Regions from separate parts of the Homo sapiens genome. Here all the other regions are reported to be linked to region 4. The links are microRNA targets in miRTarBase. Many come from high-throughput screens and were not tested one by one. Region 4 holds a microRNA gene; each other region holds the end of a gene's coding sequence. Distances are between the middles of the regions.

Region 1 (3,131 bases), not on the chromosome of region 4:
TTTATTCAACAAATACATACTGGCTGCCTACTATGTGCTAGGCATTGACTGCTCTAGTGAACAAGACAAAAATCTCTGTCCTTAAGGAGCCTGTTATAGGACGTGTGTATCCATCACCTCCCATACCCCTCCAACAACCCTAAGTATCAGGTTCTTAGGGTTCCCCCTCTGCAGGTGAAGAAGTTGAGGTTTCAGCAGGAAGAGTACCTGGCCCAGCTGAAAGGGGCGGAGCTGGGGTTTGAGCCTCAGCATTCCGGCTCCAGAGACTGCACTCTTCATCAGCCTCCTGGCATATAGGACCTCGAGTGTGGCCTGACCCTGCATCTGGGGAAACCAGTGGGCAGGCTGGAGTGAGTCATGCCAGCCCGTCAGCCAGCCCAGGCGAGAGTGTAGATCTAGGGTTTGCAGTACCCTGTGTGCAGCAAGGACAGTAAACAGACCAACCAACAGTTGAAAGTGGGAGTGAGCAAACTCTGTGTCCCGCGGTTCACTTTAGTCCGACAGCAGGGCCAAGATCACGTGAGGAAGGAGGCAGGTGGGGCTGAGGAGGGGTAAGGATGGATGCTTCCTCCAACCCATCTCCTCTCTCTCTTGCAGGGACGAGGCCAGCAGCTCTGGCTGCTCAGAAACAGACTCCACAGAGCTGGCTAGCATCCTCTAGGGCCCGCCACGTTGCCCGAAGCCACCATGCAGAAGGCCACAGAAGGGATCAGGACCTGTCTGCCGGCTTGCTGAGCAGCTGGACTGCAGGTGCTAGGAAGGGAACTGAAGACTCAAGGAGGTGGCCCAGGACACTTGCTGTGCTCACTGTGGGGCCGGCTGCTCTGTGGCCTCCTGCCTCCCCTCTGCCTGCCTGTGGGGCCAAGCCCTGGGGCTGCCACTGTGAATATGCCAAGGACTGATCGGGCCTAGCCCGGAACACTAATGTAGAAACCTTTTTTTTTACAGAGCCTAATTAATAACTTAATGACTGTGTACATAGCAATGTGTGTGTATGTATATGTCTGTGAGCTATTAATGTTATTAATTTTCATAAAAGCTGGAAAGCAGCTGCCTGTTTCTGTCTGTGTCCTCAGCCACTCACTGAGCCCTTCTGCCTTAAGACTCCGTTAGAGAACACACTGAGCCCCAGGTGCTACTGGGTGGGGGCGAACATGTCTGGAGTTGTGGCTGGAGTGCAGTGGCGCAATCTCGGCTCAGGCAATCCTTCCTTCTGCTTCACCCTCTCGAGTAGCTGGGACTACAGGCATGCACCACCACGCCTGGCTGATTTTTAAATTTTTTTGTAGAGATGGAGGTTTCACTATGTTGCCCAGGCCAATCCTTCTCACTGGACTCAAGCAATCCTCCTGCATTAGCCTCCCAAAGTAGTGGGATTACAGGTGTGAACCACTACACCTGGCCTCTTGCTAAGTCAAGACTGTTCTTATTTGAAAGATAAGAACACCCTAGTGTAGAGAGGGATTTAGCTAAAGTCACGCAGCCTTTAGTGACCTAACTGGAATTTTATCCCAACTCTGTAAGACTCCAATACCGTAATCGCCACTGTCTACTTCCTTGTGTCTGAGAATGACCAGGGGACCGGCAGACAGATGCTTGCTCTGGGTGTGCCTGTACACTGTGCTTCCTGCCTGGTGCATGCCTGAGCCTGCAGGGCTGGTGGGGCTGGAGGCCTGTGGGGTCCCTGGAGACTGGTGGTTCTTTCTCCACAACTGTTACTGATGGTATTGAAAGGTGAGAATGTACCTGCTGGATGTGTGTATCAGATGAGGGAGGATTTTACCACAGACGCACTGGTGACAAAAAAAAACCAAACACCTCCGGTAGGGAACAGGGTGGTGGGGAAGGCCTAGTTGGGAGCACTTGGCTAACTTCCATGGTATGAATAACTCCCACCATAGCCAATTTCAAGTTATCCATGGTTGTTCATTTGAACATTTCCTAAACATTTAGTAGTTGGCTTTTACAAGCTGGTAGGAGCTTGCCTAACACACCACTGGGTCTCACACTTAGGCCAAGCCCCCAAAATCACAAGAAGGCAAAGCTGGCAGGATCAGGAGCTACTAGTCAAATCTCCTGATTTTATAAATAGATAAATGAGGCCCAGACAAGAGAGGCTCTTAGGCTATTCTGGCTTGGTTCTTACCTTGAGTGTGGGGCTCCGTTTTGGGTGGGAGGGAGGTCCACCATTTTTACTGATGAAGTTCTGCCAGGTTACTTTGATAAATTACATTAAGCGTTACTAACAGGCATGGTTACATGTGTGTAATAAGTATGAATTCAGTTAGTCTTCAGATAGTTGTCAGAACTTCCCTATGAGGAAGGTATTATTGTCATCCTCACGTTAAGAGATAAGGAAACTGACGCAGGGAAAAGTTAAGTAACCTGCTCAAGGTCATTGGACAGTCACTGGAAGAGCTGATACTTGAATCGAGGTTGGCTATAGTGCCTGGGCTCTTAACCACTACTTAAGGCTGTTAGGTGAACCAATGGTTTTGTCAACACCAAGGCAAGTCACACACTGTCTTTGTATCAGCCATCTCATGTCAGGCTGTCTGGGCAAGGCAGGAGCCTAGAGTCTGTTATGGCCTCTGGAGCTGGCCTGCTCAGAGACTCTGAGATAATGTTTATAGAAGCCCACTTATACCTCCTCTCTCCCTCCACTCTAACCAGTAACCACCAAGTCCTGTCTTTAAAAAAAAAAAAAAATTAAAGTTTTCAGCTGGGCGCAGTGGCTCACGCCTGTAATCCCAGCACTTTGGGAGGCCGAGGCGGGCAGATCACCTGAGGTCAGGAGTTCGAGACCAGCCTGGCCAACATGGTGAAACCCCGTCTCTACTAAAAATACAAAAATTAGCCAGGTGTGGTGGTGCATGCCTGTAATCTCAGCTACTCAGGAGGCGGAGGCAGGAGAATCGCTTGAACCCAGGAGGCAGCAGTTGCAGTGAGCTGAGATCGCGCCATTGCACTCCAGCCTGGGGGACAGAGAGAACCAGTCTCAAAACAGAAACAAACCAAAAACCAACAAACAAAAACAAAACTAGCCAGGCGTGGTAGCACATGCCTGTAATCCCAGCTACTTGGGAGGCTGAGGGCAGGAGAATGGCTTGAACCTGGGAGGCGGAGGTTGC
Region 2 (3,131 bases), 10 Mb from region 4:
TAATGCTCTGAGAAAAGGGATGGCACATACAGTTTCTCCTGAAGCGGGAAACAGAGCCCAGTTGGTAAGGTGGCCAGTCTCTAGGGCATCTTAGATGAACCTTGTTTCTTCCTATTACTTTTCCTTCATCTACTTTTTTTTTTTCTGAGATAGAGCCTTGCTCTGTCGCCCAGGCTGGAGTGCAGTGGCATGATCTCGGCTCACTGCAACCTCTGCCTCCTAGGTTCAAGGGATCTTCCTACCTCAGGCTCCTGAGTAGCCAGGATTACAGGTGCATGCCACCGTGCCCGGCTAATACTTTGCATTTTTGTAAAGACGGGGTTTCACCATGTTGGCCAGGCGGGTCTCGAACCCCTGACCTCAAGTGATCGGCCGCCTAAGCCTCCAAAGTGCTGGGATTACAGGCATGAGCCACCGTGCCCAGCCTTCCTTCATCTACTTATTTTCCTGTGATGCCTCCATGTTTTAGAGTATGTGTCTGAGGGGCAGGAATATGTATTAGATATATCTAGGGCAGTCCCACCAGCTTTACATTCTTGAGACCTCATCCATCAGTTCTTGTTTTGCAGACATATACTTCTATTGACTACAATGAGAAGTGTGTCTCTTAAAAAGGTAAGTCTGGCCGCGCGTGGTGGCTCACGCCTGTAATCCCAGCACTTTGGGAGGCAGAGGCAGGTGGATCACGAGGTCAGGAGATCGAGACCATCCTGGCTAACATAGTGAAACCCCGTCTCTACTAAAAATACAAAAATTAGCTGGGTTCGTGGGGGTGCGTGCCTGTAGTCCCAGCTACTCAGGAGGCTGAGGCAGGAGAATCGCTTAAACCTGGGAGGCGGAGGCTGCAGTGAGCCCAGATCATGCCACTGCACTCCAGCCTGGGCGACAGAGTGAGATTCTGTCTCCAAAAAAAAAAAAAATTAGCCAGGTGTGGCAGTGCACGCCTGTAGTCCCAGCTACTGGGGAGGCTGAGGCAGGAGAATTGCTTGAACTGGGGAGGCAGAGGCTGCAGTGAGCCCAGATTGTGCCACTGCACTCCAGCCTCAGTGACAGAGCGAGACCCTGTCTCAAAAAAAAAAAAAAAAAACAAGTGAACAAAGGTCTCTGGTTTTCCTAGGCAGAGGACCCTGCGGCCTTCCGCAGTGTTTGTGTCCCTGGGTACTTGAGATTAGGGAGTGGTGATGACTCTTAAGGAGCATGCTGCCTTCAAGCATCTGTTTAACAAAGCACATCTTGCACCGCCCTTAATCCATTGTTTATCTGCTGACCTTCCCTCCACTATTGTCCTGTGACCCTGCCAAATCCCCCTCTGCAAGAAACACCCAAGAATGATCAATTAAAAAAAAAAAAAAAAAGTTAAGAGCAAAAAAAAAAAAAAAAAAGTCCTGGTTGGGTGTGGTGGCGTGTGCCTGTAATCCTAGCACTTTGGGAGGCCAATCCCTTGGGCCCAGGAGTTTGAGACCAGCCTGGGCAATATAAGGAGACCCTATCTCTAAAAAAATGAAAAAAAAAATAAATAAATAAGTTCAAGTTCAGGTCCCTAGTACCTGTGAATGTCACCTTACTTGGAAAGAGTATTCGCTGATCTAATTAAGGTAAGGATCTCGAGATGAGATCATCCTCATTAGAGTGGGCCCTAAATCCAGTGACATGGATTTGGTGTCCAGTGATGTCTTTACAAGAGACAGGAAAGAATACACACAGGTATTCCTGTGTATTTCAAGTCAAGTTGTATATGGTAGTCCTTGCTTAATAAGGGAAAAGTTCGGGTCTGTGTATTTATTCTTAGGGCTGCCATAAAAAATTATGGCCTTCTCAGGGGAGAAGGCCACATGAAGATAGAAGCAGAGACTGGACTTACACTGTCACAAGCCAAGGACTGCCAAGGATTGCCGATGGCCACTAGAGAAAGGAGAAAGGCATGGAATGGATTCTCCCCCAGAGCCTCCAGAAAGAACCTACCTTACTAACACTTTAATTTCAGACTTTGGGCCTCCAGAACTGTGAGACTCAATTTCTGTTAAGTCACCCATGTGGTGGTAATTTTTTTTTTTTTTTTTTGAGACAGAGTCTTGCTTTGTCACCCAGGCCGGAGTGCAGTGGCATGGTCTCGGCTCACTGCAACCTCTGCCTCCTGGGTTCAAGTGATTCTCCTGCCTCAGCCTCCTGGTTAGCTGGGATTACAGGCACACAGCTCCAAGCCTGGCTAATTTCTATATTTTCAGTAGAGACAGGGTTTCATCATGTTGGCCAGGCTAGTCTTGAACTCCTGATCTCAAGTGACCCGCCCACCTTGGCCTACCAAAGTGCTGGGATTACGGGCATGAGCGCTGCGCCCGGCCAGGTTGTGGTAATTTTTTATGGCAGCCCTAAGAATAAATACACAGACCTGAACTTTTGTCTTTTTGAGCAAGGACTGCCATGTACAACTTGACCTGAGAGTGCAGCCTTCAATCTTTTCCTCTGGGGCCTCTGGCAACAGTTCTCAGATGACTATGCTCAGAGAGACACCTGTGACTGTCCACCCAGCAGCCATCTGTTCACCAGCAGAGGAGACCGGAAGTCCCTTGTGAGGTGCTGGGTTCTGAAGCTTCAGGAGTGGGATCCATGTCATCGTCCATATCAGATCTGTCTGCTCCAATCTCAGCCCTTTCTTCCTGCCTGATCCAAAGGCTATTTTCTAGCTGTTCTTCAGCAATTTCTAGCTCTTCTTCCGTTTGTAAAGTAGCCACAGTTTCCCGGGGCAAGTTTGAGGAATATAGCCCAAATTTGGCTTTATAGCCAAACATTGCCTCAAATGGACTTTGCTGCAAGGAAACGTCGAAAGCCTGATTCCTCACCATCTGCATGAATCGGAGGCCTTTGGCCCAGTGACATGAGTGGTTACTCTGCATCCAGGTACTTATCATGTTCTTTACATCACGGCTTGCTCCTTCCAGGGAGCCCTGGCTTTGGCCAGGGTGGTACTTACCAGATACAATCTTTAGGTCTGGCCACAACTCATTGAGCTCATGAACAACCTGGTTTGTGAACTCAACGCCACTGTCAGAGTCTAACACACTGGGTGTACCAAGAATTGTGAAAATATCTAACAAGACACTGACCACCTCATGGGCCTGTTTGGTTCTTAA
Region 3 (3,131 bases), 25 Mb from region 4:
CTGTCCAAGCAGAGGCTTATCCCTGTTACACATGAGCAGGTGGGACCCTTGACGTCTGACCTCATCCCAGCCTAGACCTGTCACCTCTGCCCCTTCAGTCTCTGATTTGAAAACACCTTACCTGGCTCATCCTTTGTTCTGGTCTGTGACCTCTGACCTGATCCCTTGACTGCCCCCAGCCTTGACATTCAACCCCAGCCCACAGCCTCCATGCCCCTTTCTAAGCTGCAGGCTAAGACCTATAACTTTCTCCCATGCACTCCTTCCTTTTCCAGGGCACTGTGCTGGCCAAGCAGGTGGGGGCTGTGTCCTATGTTGAGTGCTCCTCCCGGTCCTCTGAGCGCAGCGTCAGGGATGTCTTCCATGTGGCTACAGTGGCCTCCCTTGGCCGTGGCCATAGGCAGCTGCGCCGAACTGACTCACGCCGGGGAATGCAGCGATCCGCTCAGCTGTCAGGACGGCCAGACCGGGGGAATGAGGGCGAGATACACAAGGATCGAGCCAAAAGCTGCAACCTCATGTGAGGGGCTAGGAGAGGGCAGAGTGTGAAGAGGGGTGGTGAGGGACACAATTGTTCCCCTGCCTGCGCCCAGGCTTCCTGACCTCCTGATCCTGGCTGGGAAGTTAGGGCAGGCAGAGCGAGCAATTCTGGGCAGGGGAGCTGGAGGGCAGAAGGGTATCATCGTTTCTCATCTCCTCCTCCCTCCTCTTCTCCAGTGGATGTTGAGGGAGCTAACAGGGCTGGCATCTGGGGCATGAACTGGGATGGGGCAGGTGGGCGTTAGGGAAGCTGGTATCAAATGGTGACCTTGGTGGAGTCTCCTATGTGAAGAGTACCCTCCCTCTCCACCCCCAGTCCCCATATCCTGGTTCTGGCCCAAGGAAAATGTCCATTCTATGACCTTCTCTTTTCCTCTCCTCTCACTTCTGCAGCTATTCTCACACATCTAACCTCTAGGCAACATGCACTAAATTCAAAAGCAAGGAGAAGCCCTTGCCCCCCATCAGTCCACCAGCCCTAGAACCTCCCTTGCCTCAACAGTCACCTAATAAAGCCCACCTCCATGGAAAACGGCTGTGGCTTTAGTTTTGTTGCTTTTTAAAAAAATCAATCTACCAATCTTTAGCAGTAAGAGGGAAAGTTAGACCTCAGCTGGGGAACTTTCCTGTCCATGTCCACAGATAGAGCAGAGGACAAAGCCATAGGTTGGATCAGAAGTGTCCTTTTAGGAGTCAGAGTTGGGAGAAGGAGACATCCTGGGACTGTTCATCCTAGTTAATGAAGTGGGCAATTCTCAGGCCATTAGGGGGTTTTAGAGCAGACCGACATATAATTAGTCAGCATTTCTCAGCCCAGCCAGGCCTGCTGCTAGTGTGGGAGGGGTCCTGCTCACCATCTGTACCCCTGGCTTGGAGCCTGCTGGTACCCTGGGGGTTGTGGGGATAAGGAGGCATCAGGCCGGGCGCGCTGGCTCACGCCTGTAATCCCAGCACTTTGGGAGGCCGAGGTGGGCGGATCACAAGTTCAGGAGATCGAGACCATCCTGGCTAACACGGTGAAACCCCATCTCTACTAAAAATACAAAAAATTAGCCAGGCGCGGTGGCAGTGCCTGTAGTCCCAGCTGCTCGGGAGGCTGAGGCAGGAGAATGGTGTGAACCCGGGTGAACCTGGGAGGCGGAGCTTGCAGTGAGCCGAGATTGCGCCACTGCATTCTAGCCTGGATGACAGAGCAAGACTCTGTCTCCAAAAAAAAAAAAAAAAAAAAAAAAGAAGGCATCAAAAGCCTCCACATCACAGAAGCTACCCCTGTACAGCGTGAAGTTTCCTAAGAGGTCAGTAGTTTGATTCTGGGGTCTCCTTAGAGGCTCAGGCCAGGGACCTTTCTCTCCTCCCATGCTGAGTTTCATGATGGCTTTCAGGGGAGCATCAGCTGTTAGAGTCACCCCTACCCTGTCCCTTAAAGGAAAGACGGTGGAGAGGACGGCTGAGCGCCTGTTGTCAGGAAAGACAGTACTGGTCTGTTTTCTCGGGAGTCTGGTTTCAGATTGTCCTGTATTCCCTTCCTGGCTCTGGTCCCACTGGCCTCTTTTCGGTGACATTCTCCCCCAGGAACCATCCCTGGCCCTTCCCTCCCCCAGCCCTAGCCAGTTCTCCCAGACACACTGGAAGAGAACACTGACCTTACCCAACTATCTGCTGGGATCCCACCCAAATTTATAGCCCATTCCTCCCTCATTCATTCATTCAGCAAGTATGTACTGAACACCAACTGTGTGGCATACACTGGCTTGGGAGATTGCAAGGACCAGTCTCTAAGCTTTTGGAGGCCAGCCCAGTGTGGAAGAGAGGTACCTCAGGTGTGAGGGTGCCATGGCTGAGGGATATTTGTACATGTATGGGATGCTATGGGAGCTCCTTGCAGCCTGAGAAGCCAGTCCTGTGAGCCAGGTCCTGAGGGTTGAAGAGGAGTTTTCCGGGCAGGGAAGGGGTAGGAAAGGCACTCTGGGCAGAGGGTACAGCATGTGTAAACACGTGGAGATGAGAATGAGCATAGCACTGTTGGGGCTCCCATGGCAGGGAGAATAGAAGACAAGGCTAGGAAGGTACACTGAGGCTACTGCAGGGTCCACAGAGGAATCAGAATTTCATTCTGAGGATGAATGAAATCATCCTCAGAGGATGAAGCCACCAGGAATTTCAGGCAGAGAGTGAAGTGATCAGAGTTGTTTTTTGGATAGATGGTTATCTGGATGTGGTGTTGGAGCTGGGAGATTTGGCTCTGAGGTGTGTCATTTAAAATAATAGCTTCTCGGCAGTGGCTCACACCTATAATCCCAGCCAAGATTCCTCCTTTGGGAGGCCAAGCTGGGAGGATCGCTTGAGGCCAGGAGTTAGAGACTGCAGTGAGCTATGATCATGCCATTGTCTTCCAGCCTGAGTGTCAGAGTGAGACCCTGTCTCTAAAAAAAATTAAAAAATAAAAAATAAAAAATAGCTTCTCCTTTCCCTTATGCCAGGTTCCAGTCTTGAGAGGAAAGGAATCCCTACCCACCACTCCCTGGATCATCAGATATCCCTATCCCAACCTCTCCTATGGGACTAGTTCATCTCAGCCAGTCTCAAAGATT
Region 4 (3,131 bases):
GTACCCAGGGACACAAACACTGCGGAAAGCCGCAGGGTCCTCTGCCTAGGAAAACCAGAGACCCTTGTTCACTTGTTTATCTGCTGACCTTCCCTCCACTATTGTCCTATGACCCTGCCAAATCCCCCTCCACGAGAAACACCCAAGAATGATCAATAAATACTAAAAAAAAAAAAAAAAAAAAAAAAAAAAAAGAGTAATGTAGTCACCAGAGGGCTGGTGTCTCTGCTGATGCAAAGTTGGCGCATCAGGTCTCACCACAGGCTAAATGATGACCTGACCACTAACAGGCTTTCCCAGGTATGGGAATTCGAAAATAAGGGGAGTGCCTAGGGGTAGGTTATGAGGTAATGGAAAGAAAAACCTTCACTAAAATGATATTAATGTTTATACATCCATGTCTTCTAGTTTGACTACTATGAGTCTTTCTCTTTGAGAAACATGATGGATCACTGTAAGTTCACCAGAATAATGCAGCCTTGTGAGGCCTCCCAGTGGCCCCCAGCCAGCCATGCACCCTCCTTTCATTCAAACACCTGCCTCTCGAGTTCAGCAACCGGCGCCATCCTAACACATAGTGGTTGCTGATCCCCCTCCTATGTTCCTAGGACCTGGATGCACAAAAGTGAAGCAGGAGCTGTGGCTGACAGTCTCCTTCTGGGGATTCCTTTCTTTCTTTCTTTTTTTTTTTTTGAGACGGCATCTCGCTCTGTCGCCCAGGCTGGAGTACAGTGGCACAATCTCAGCTCACTGCAAGCTCCACCTCCCAGGCTCACGCCATTCTCCTGCCTTCGCCTCCTGAGTAGCTGGGACTACAGGTGCCCACCACCACACTCGGCTAATTTTTCGTGTTTTTAGTAGAGACGGGGTTTCACCGTGTTAGCCAGGATGGTCTTGATCTCCTGACCTCGTGATCTGCCCGCTTCGGCCTCCCAAAGTGCTGGGATTACAGGCGCGAGCCACCTCACCTGGCCGGGAATCCTTTCTGTAAAGCCTGTCACTGCTCCTTCCTAAGCAGCTCTTTAAGGGACTGGGATCTTAATATTTTCCAAGGATCCCAGGTCAGAGTTTTTCCCAGCTCCCTCAACTGAATCTGAACCCCCACAGGAGAAATGTAAACCATGGTACCCATCTGTACCCAACATTCGGGAGCTCACCTTTCCTGTAGAAGATCATGCCAGCTCGGCAGCCTCGCAGGGTCTTGTGAGTGGTGGTGGTCACCACATGGCAGTGTTCAAATGGGGAGGGCACCACGCCAGCCGCCACCAGCCCGCTGATGTGAGCCATGTCCGCCATGAGATACGCCCCGTTCTCATCTGCAATCTTCCGTAGCCGGGCATATTCCAGGTTTCGGGAGTAGCAGCTGGTTCCTGAGACAGGAAAGGTGACACAGCTGCATCAGAGATGTCCACCGGCCAGCTGAGTTGGCTTCACAGTGGCCTCTAGATGTGCAGATCTGAAAGCCCAGAGATTTCTTCCCTTAAAGTCTCAGAGCAAAAATGGAGAATGCCCTCAAAAAGCACCTCTGTGCTAAAGGCAACCACTCTAACTCTTCAACGTCTTGGTGGTTGAGATGGCCCCAACTACTATTGCCAGCGCAGTCAGGGCCTGACATTTCTAGATGCTTCTCTGAGAACAGTCTCACATCTTAATCTACATAGCACAAAAAGCAGCAAACACACATCTGTATCCTGAAAGAAACTAATATATGTAGACCCCAGAAACTCAGTTATCCAGGGCAGAAACTAGCAGTGGGCTCAACAGGGTGCGAACATCTTTCCATCCTCATTCTGTAAGAGGCACCAGGCTACTGGTGAACAAGGTGACTTTCCGCCCCGCGCATCACCTGCGATGATCAGCTTCGGGTGGAAGAGGCGTGCGTTCTCCTCCAGCTGGTCATAGTTGATGTAGCCAGTATCTGGGTTCACCTGTGGAATGTCAGGGAGGCAGGTTCAGGCTGCTTCCTCCAACCACACCTGCCTCCTGTCCTCCCACTTGAACTGGCTCCACCCACCATGACAAGAGGAATGATGTCCTAGATGAGGACTTGAGGGTGAGACAGGATGGATACTGGTGTGTTCAGCCTGCTCAACCAAGTATGGCTCACAGACCCAGGAGTCCCTGAGGAGTCCCAGGGTTGTAGTGAGCCCTGCTGCTGGGGCACTACCTGCTGAGAAGGAACCAAAAAGCACCTGCAGAATGAAACAAATGTGACGGGACCACACAATGGAAACCAAAATGGTTACCTTCAGGAACAAGACCAAAATGCCTGCTAATACTACTTCTATTCCAAGTATAATGAGGCAAGAAAAAGAAACAAAAGGCATAACGATTAGGAAAGAAGAAATTTAAAAACTGACATTACACACAGACAACACAATATACCTAGAAAATCAAGATGCTAGGGGCCAACTGTTAGAATAAGCAAATTTAGCAAGGTCACTGGATACAACATTGAAAAACAAGAAGTAGGGGCTGGGCGCGGTGGCTCACACCTGTAATCCCAGCACTTTGGGAGGCTGAGACGGGCAGATCATGAGGTCAGGAGATCGAGACCATCCTGGCTAACACGGTGAAACCCCGTCTCTACTAAAAATGCAAAAAATTAGCCAGATATGGTGGCGGGCGCCTGTAATCCCAGCTACTTGGGAGGCTGAGGCAGGAGAATGGCGTGAACCCGGGAGGTGGAGCTTGCAGTGAGCCGAGATTGTGCCACTGCACTCCAGCACTCCAGCCTGGGCAACAGAGCGAGACTCCATCTGAAAAAAAAAAAAAAAAAAAGCCAAAAAGTATATAAAAGCAAGAAAGATAGAAAATGAAATGTAAATAACAAAAACCATAAAAGGAAAATCATACCAAACCTTTACACAAAACATCATTGCGTTGTGTATTTTGTGTCACAAAATGCTTGACAAATTATAGTAATTAAGGCAGCACGCATTCATGGAAGGGCAGAGCATCTGGCTTAACCAGAAGCAGAACCACACACAACACAGGTCATTGGATCCATGCCAGTGGTGACGCTGCAGTGCAGTGGGGAGAGGATGACCTTTTCAATCAATGGCACTAGGTCAACTGGGCATCCATTTGGACAAAAATGTTATCTGGATGCCCGCCTCACCCACACAAAT
Region 5 (3,131 bases), not on the chromosome of region 4:
GCCAGCTCTGCTGGCTAGTCTGGCGGCGGCGGCGGCACCACTCCCAGGGCTGGGCTGGGCATGCGACGTGGCACTTCTGCGGGGTCAGCTGGCGGAGTGGCGACGGGGCCTGGGGCTGGAACCCACGGCACTGGCTCGACGTGAGCGTGCCCTGGGCCTGGCTTCTGGAGAGCTGGCAGCGCGCGCTCATTTCCCAGGCCCGGTGACGCGCGCCGAGGTGGAAGCAAGACTGGGCGCCTGGGCGGGCGAGGGCACTGCTGGGGGCGCAGCACTGGGGGCTCTCTCCTTCCTGTGGCCTGCGGGTGGTGCAGCGGCGACAGGTGGCCTGGGCTACCGAGCGGCTCACGGCGTCCTGCTGCAGGCTCTCGATGAGATGCGGGCTGATGCTGAGGCTGTGCTGGCACCCCCTGAGCCTGCCCAGTGAGGAGTGGGAGGGGGCTTGGGAGTCCAGACTCTGACAGGGGATGCCTGGGCTTAATCCTGGGTGCTTGAAGGGGATGTGGACTCTTGACTTCCAGCTGGGATGTGTGACTTCTTATCACCTGGATTCAGAGAGTCTGGGGGACAGGAATCCTGATTTTTTTTTTTTTTTTTCTTTTTTTTGTGAGACGAAGTCTCTTGTTGCCCAGGCTGGAGTGCAATGGCGCGACCTCGGCTCACTGCAACCTCCGCCTCCCGGGTTCAAGCGATTCTCCTGCCTCAGCGTCCGGAGTAGCTGGGATTACAGGTGCCTGCCACCACACCTGGCTAATTTTTGTATTTTTAGTAGAGACGGGGTTTCACCATGTTGGCCAGGCTGGCCTCGAACTCCTGACCTCAGGCGATCGACCCGCTCCGGCCTCCCAAAGTGCTAGGATTACAGGCGTGAGCCACCGCCCCTGGCCAGGAATCCTGATACCTTTGGGAACCATGGTGAATGACATCTAGACCCTTCTGTCCTGAAGGGAGTTGGTGGCCCAGACTCTAGCAGGGACTATGTCTTTGTCTCCTAGGGAGTAGAAACTGGAGTTACTGGATGTTTAGTCCTCCAGGGAGGCTGGTAGAAGTCCTGTTTCCTAATTGGTGGGGAGGTGTCCATGACTGGGACCTGAACTCCAGTATAGGGGAGGGAGACCTGAGCGCCCCAGGGAGCTGGAACTCTTGGGCTTCAGAGCCTCAGAGGGAAACAGGGTCTACATTTCTCTGGGAGAAAAAGCCTGCACACAGGTCCCCAAGGAGCAGTGGGCTTTGAATCTTGATGGGGTGGCGGAGGCCCCTGGGGTCTGAGACTTCCGGGGTTCTAAGATGGCTGTGGACCTTGGTTCCTAAATATTGGGTAAGGGGAGGTCTGCATCTGGAGGAGGGATCGGGGGCTTGTGCGAGAAAGCTGGAGACTTCTTGATCTCTCCTGGGGAGTGGATGGGTTTCTATAATTGCCCTCCAAAAGCATGTAGGGAGGGTGGTCCCACAAAAATGAGGTGAGGTGGGTAAGAGGTCTGGGCATGGTGGGCTCTGGGAGTAGCCAGGGACCAGGAATGAGGTCTTTTGGGTGTGGAAGGGCAGTAAAGCATACCTCAGAGACAGCTCCTCCAAACCTTGTATTGGGATCCCGGCAACTGCCTCTGTGAGTGTGACTGGGAAGGGATATGACTGCCTTCATCTTCTAGGTGCTGAGCAATTCAGGTGATCTCTGGGGAGTCTGTTTCTCTGTCTCTTTTCTTTAGGAGTTTCTATCTTTTTTTGGCCTTTTTCTCCTGGTATTTAACCATAACCCTTTATGGCCTTGGTGTTTTGTGCACCTTCCTTTTCAGAAGAGCAGCTGTACTGCTGCACTGGTCCAAACACTTCTGTATGGACACCTCGGGTATCCCCAAGAGGCTCTGCTTTCTGATGTACATAGAGGGTGCTGCATTGAGCCAGGGGCCCACCAAATGGGTGGTCAGGCACTTGAGACCATGGGAATATGCCAGGAGTGAATGAAGCAAAGGCAGAAACCACAGTGCCTGGAATGTTCTAGGCTGCTAGCCACATGTGGGGGAAAAGTTGCAGGTTACAGAATTCTTCAGTGTCAAAAACAGAAAAGGAGGATCTGAGAATCCAAGCGATAGAATCCCTTTTGTCGTAGACAGAAAGAGCAAAGTCCAGAGAGGGCAGGCTTGAGGCCCAACAGCACACAGTAAGGCCCTGTGGGTCTGGCCCTTGCCTATTCTCATTCACTGCCCCTTCCCACTCCTGTCCAGCCTGATAGACTTTCCTTCTTTTTTTTTTTGAAATGGAGTCTCACCTTGTCACCCAGTCTGGAGTACAGGGATGTGATGACTGTAGCTGAGATGACAGGCATGTGCCACCACACCTGGCTAATTTTTGTAGTTTAGTAGAGAAGGGATTTCACCCTGTTGGTCAGGCTGGTCTCGAACTCCTGACCTCAGGTGATCCACCCGACTCAGACTCCCAAAGTGCTGGGATTACAGGTGTGAGCCATCATGGCCGCCTGACTCTTTCTGATGCCTGAGTGGCTACCTTGAGTCCTGCCTGGGGACCCATGCACCTGCTGTTCTCTTTCCTTCAAGGCTCTACTCACAACTTCCTGTTCTACTCTCAAACCTTCCTGTGACGGGCTCAGTCAGATCTCAGCTCACGTATCCCCTCAGAGAGGACTTCCCCTCCCTGACCACCCTATCTGAAGTAGCTCACATTCCCCCACTATTCATTTCGGCCAGTTGAGTTTCCTTGTAGCAATTATTACTGTCAAAAATGATCTTATTTATTTACCTGTTTATTGGCTTTTGACCCGTTGCCTGTCCTGTTCTCTGTTGTTTCCCCAGCATCTAGAACAATAGGTGCCTGACACAATAGGTGCTTCGTAAATATTTATTATTATTATTATTATTTTAGAGACAGGGTCTTGCTCTGTTGCCCCGGCTGGAATACAGTGGGATGATCATGGCTCACTGCCATCTCCAACTCCTGGGCTCAAACGATCCTCCCACCTCCGCCTACAGAGTAGCTGGGACTATAGGTACACAGCACCAAATTTTCTGTAGAGACGGGGGTCTTGCTTTGTAGCCCACACTAGTGTTGAACTCCTGGCCTCAAGTGATCCTCCTGCCTTGATGGGATTACAGGTGTGAGCCACCACACCCAGCCTAAAT

Evidence for each region. Region 4 holds the annotated microRNA hsa-miR-6778-3p (UGCCUCCCUGACAUUCCACAG, at 1,929-1,949, opposite strand). A microRNA usually pairs through its seed, bases 2 to 8, with sites in the 3' UTR of a target mRNA and lowers its output. Matches are read on the target gene's strand: a 7mer-m8 pairs with bases 2 to 8, a 7mer-A1 pairs with bases 2 to 7 and ends in A, and an 8mer does both.
Region 1: the mRNA of MFSD2A is a reported target of hsa-miR-6778-3p. The part of its 3' UTR that is shown has no 7-base or 8-base seed match.
Region 2: miRTarBase lists KRABD2 as a target of hsa-miR-6778-3p. Seed matches in the 3' UTR shown: 7mer-A1 at 2,129-2,135, 7mer-A1 at 454-460 and 7mer-A1 at 214-220.
Region 3: miRTarBase lists RND2 as a target of hsa-miR-6778-3p. Seed matches in the 3' UTR shown: 7mer-A1 at 1,448-1,454, 7mer-m8 at 1,498-1,504, 7mer-m8 at 1,631-1,637, 7mer-m8 at 1,673-1,679 and 7mer-m8 at 2,858-2,864.
Region 5: the mRNA of IRGQ is a reported target of hsa-miR-6778-3p. Seed matches in the 3' UTR shown: 7mer-m8 at 1,031-1,037.

Annotation. Positions count from the first base shown.
Region 1 is chr1:39,968,908-39,972,038 of GRCh38, forward strand. It overlaps MFSD2A (MFSD2 lysolipid transporter A, lysophospholipid), which reads left to right. Exons shown (of 14, transcript NM_032793.5): 14 at 598-1,049. The coding sequence ends at 661. Among named protein-coding and RNA genes, the nearest start is that of MFSD2A, 15 kb to the left of the region's middle.
Region 2 is chr17:8,366,594-8,369,724 of GRCh38, forward strand. It overlaps KRABD2 (KRAB domain containing 2), which reads right to left. Exons shown (of 2, transcript NM_001304947.3): 2 at 1-3,131. The coding sequence ends at 2,541. Among named protein-coding and RNA genes, the nearest start is that of KRABD2, 8.5 kb to the right of the region's middle.
Region 3 is chr17:43,028,157-43,031,287 of GRCh38, forward strand. It overlaps RND2 (Rho family GTPase 2), which reads left to right. Exons shown (of 5, transcript NM_005440.5): 4 at 1-39; 5 at 276-3,131. The coding sequence ends at 524. Among named protein-coding and RNA genes, the nearest start is that of RND2, 4.5 kb to the left of the region's middle.
Region 4 is chr17:18,338,886-18,342,016 of GRCh38, forward strand. It overlaps MIR6778 (microRNA 6778), which reads right to left and starts at 2,001; the gene lies at 1,929-2,001. It overlaps SHMT1 (serine hydroxymethyltransferase 1), which reads right to left. Exons shown (of 12, transcript NM_004169.5): 6 at 1,847-1,928; 7 at 1,158-1,370.
Region 5 is chr19:43,589,319-43,592,449 of GRCh38, reverse strand. It overlaps IRGQ (immunity related GTPase Q), which reads left to right. Exons shown (of 3, transcript NM_001007561.3): 3 at 1-3,131. The coding sequence ends at 424. Among named protein-coding and RNA genes, the nearest start is that of IRGQ, 5.2 kb to the left of the region's middle. RefSeq lists an enhancer at 2,627-2,716.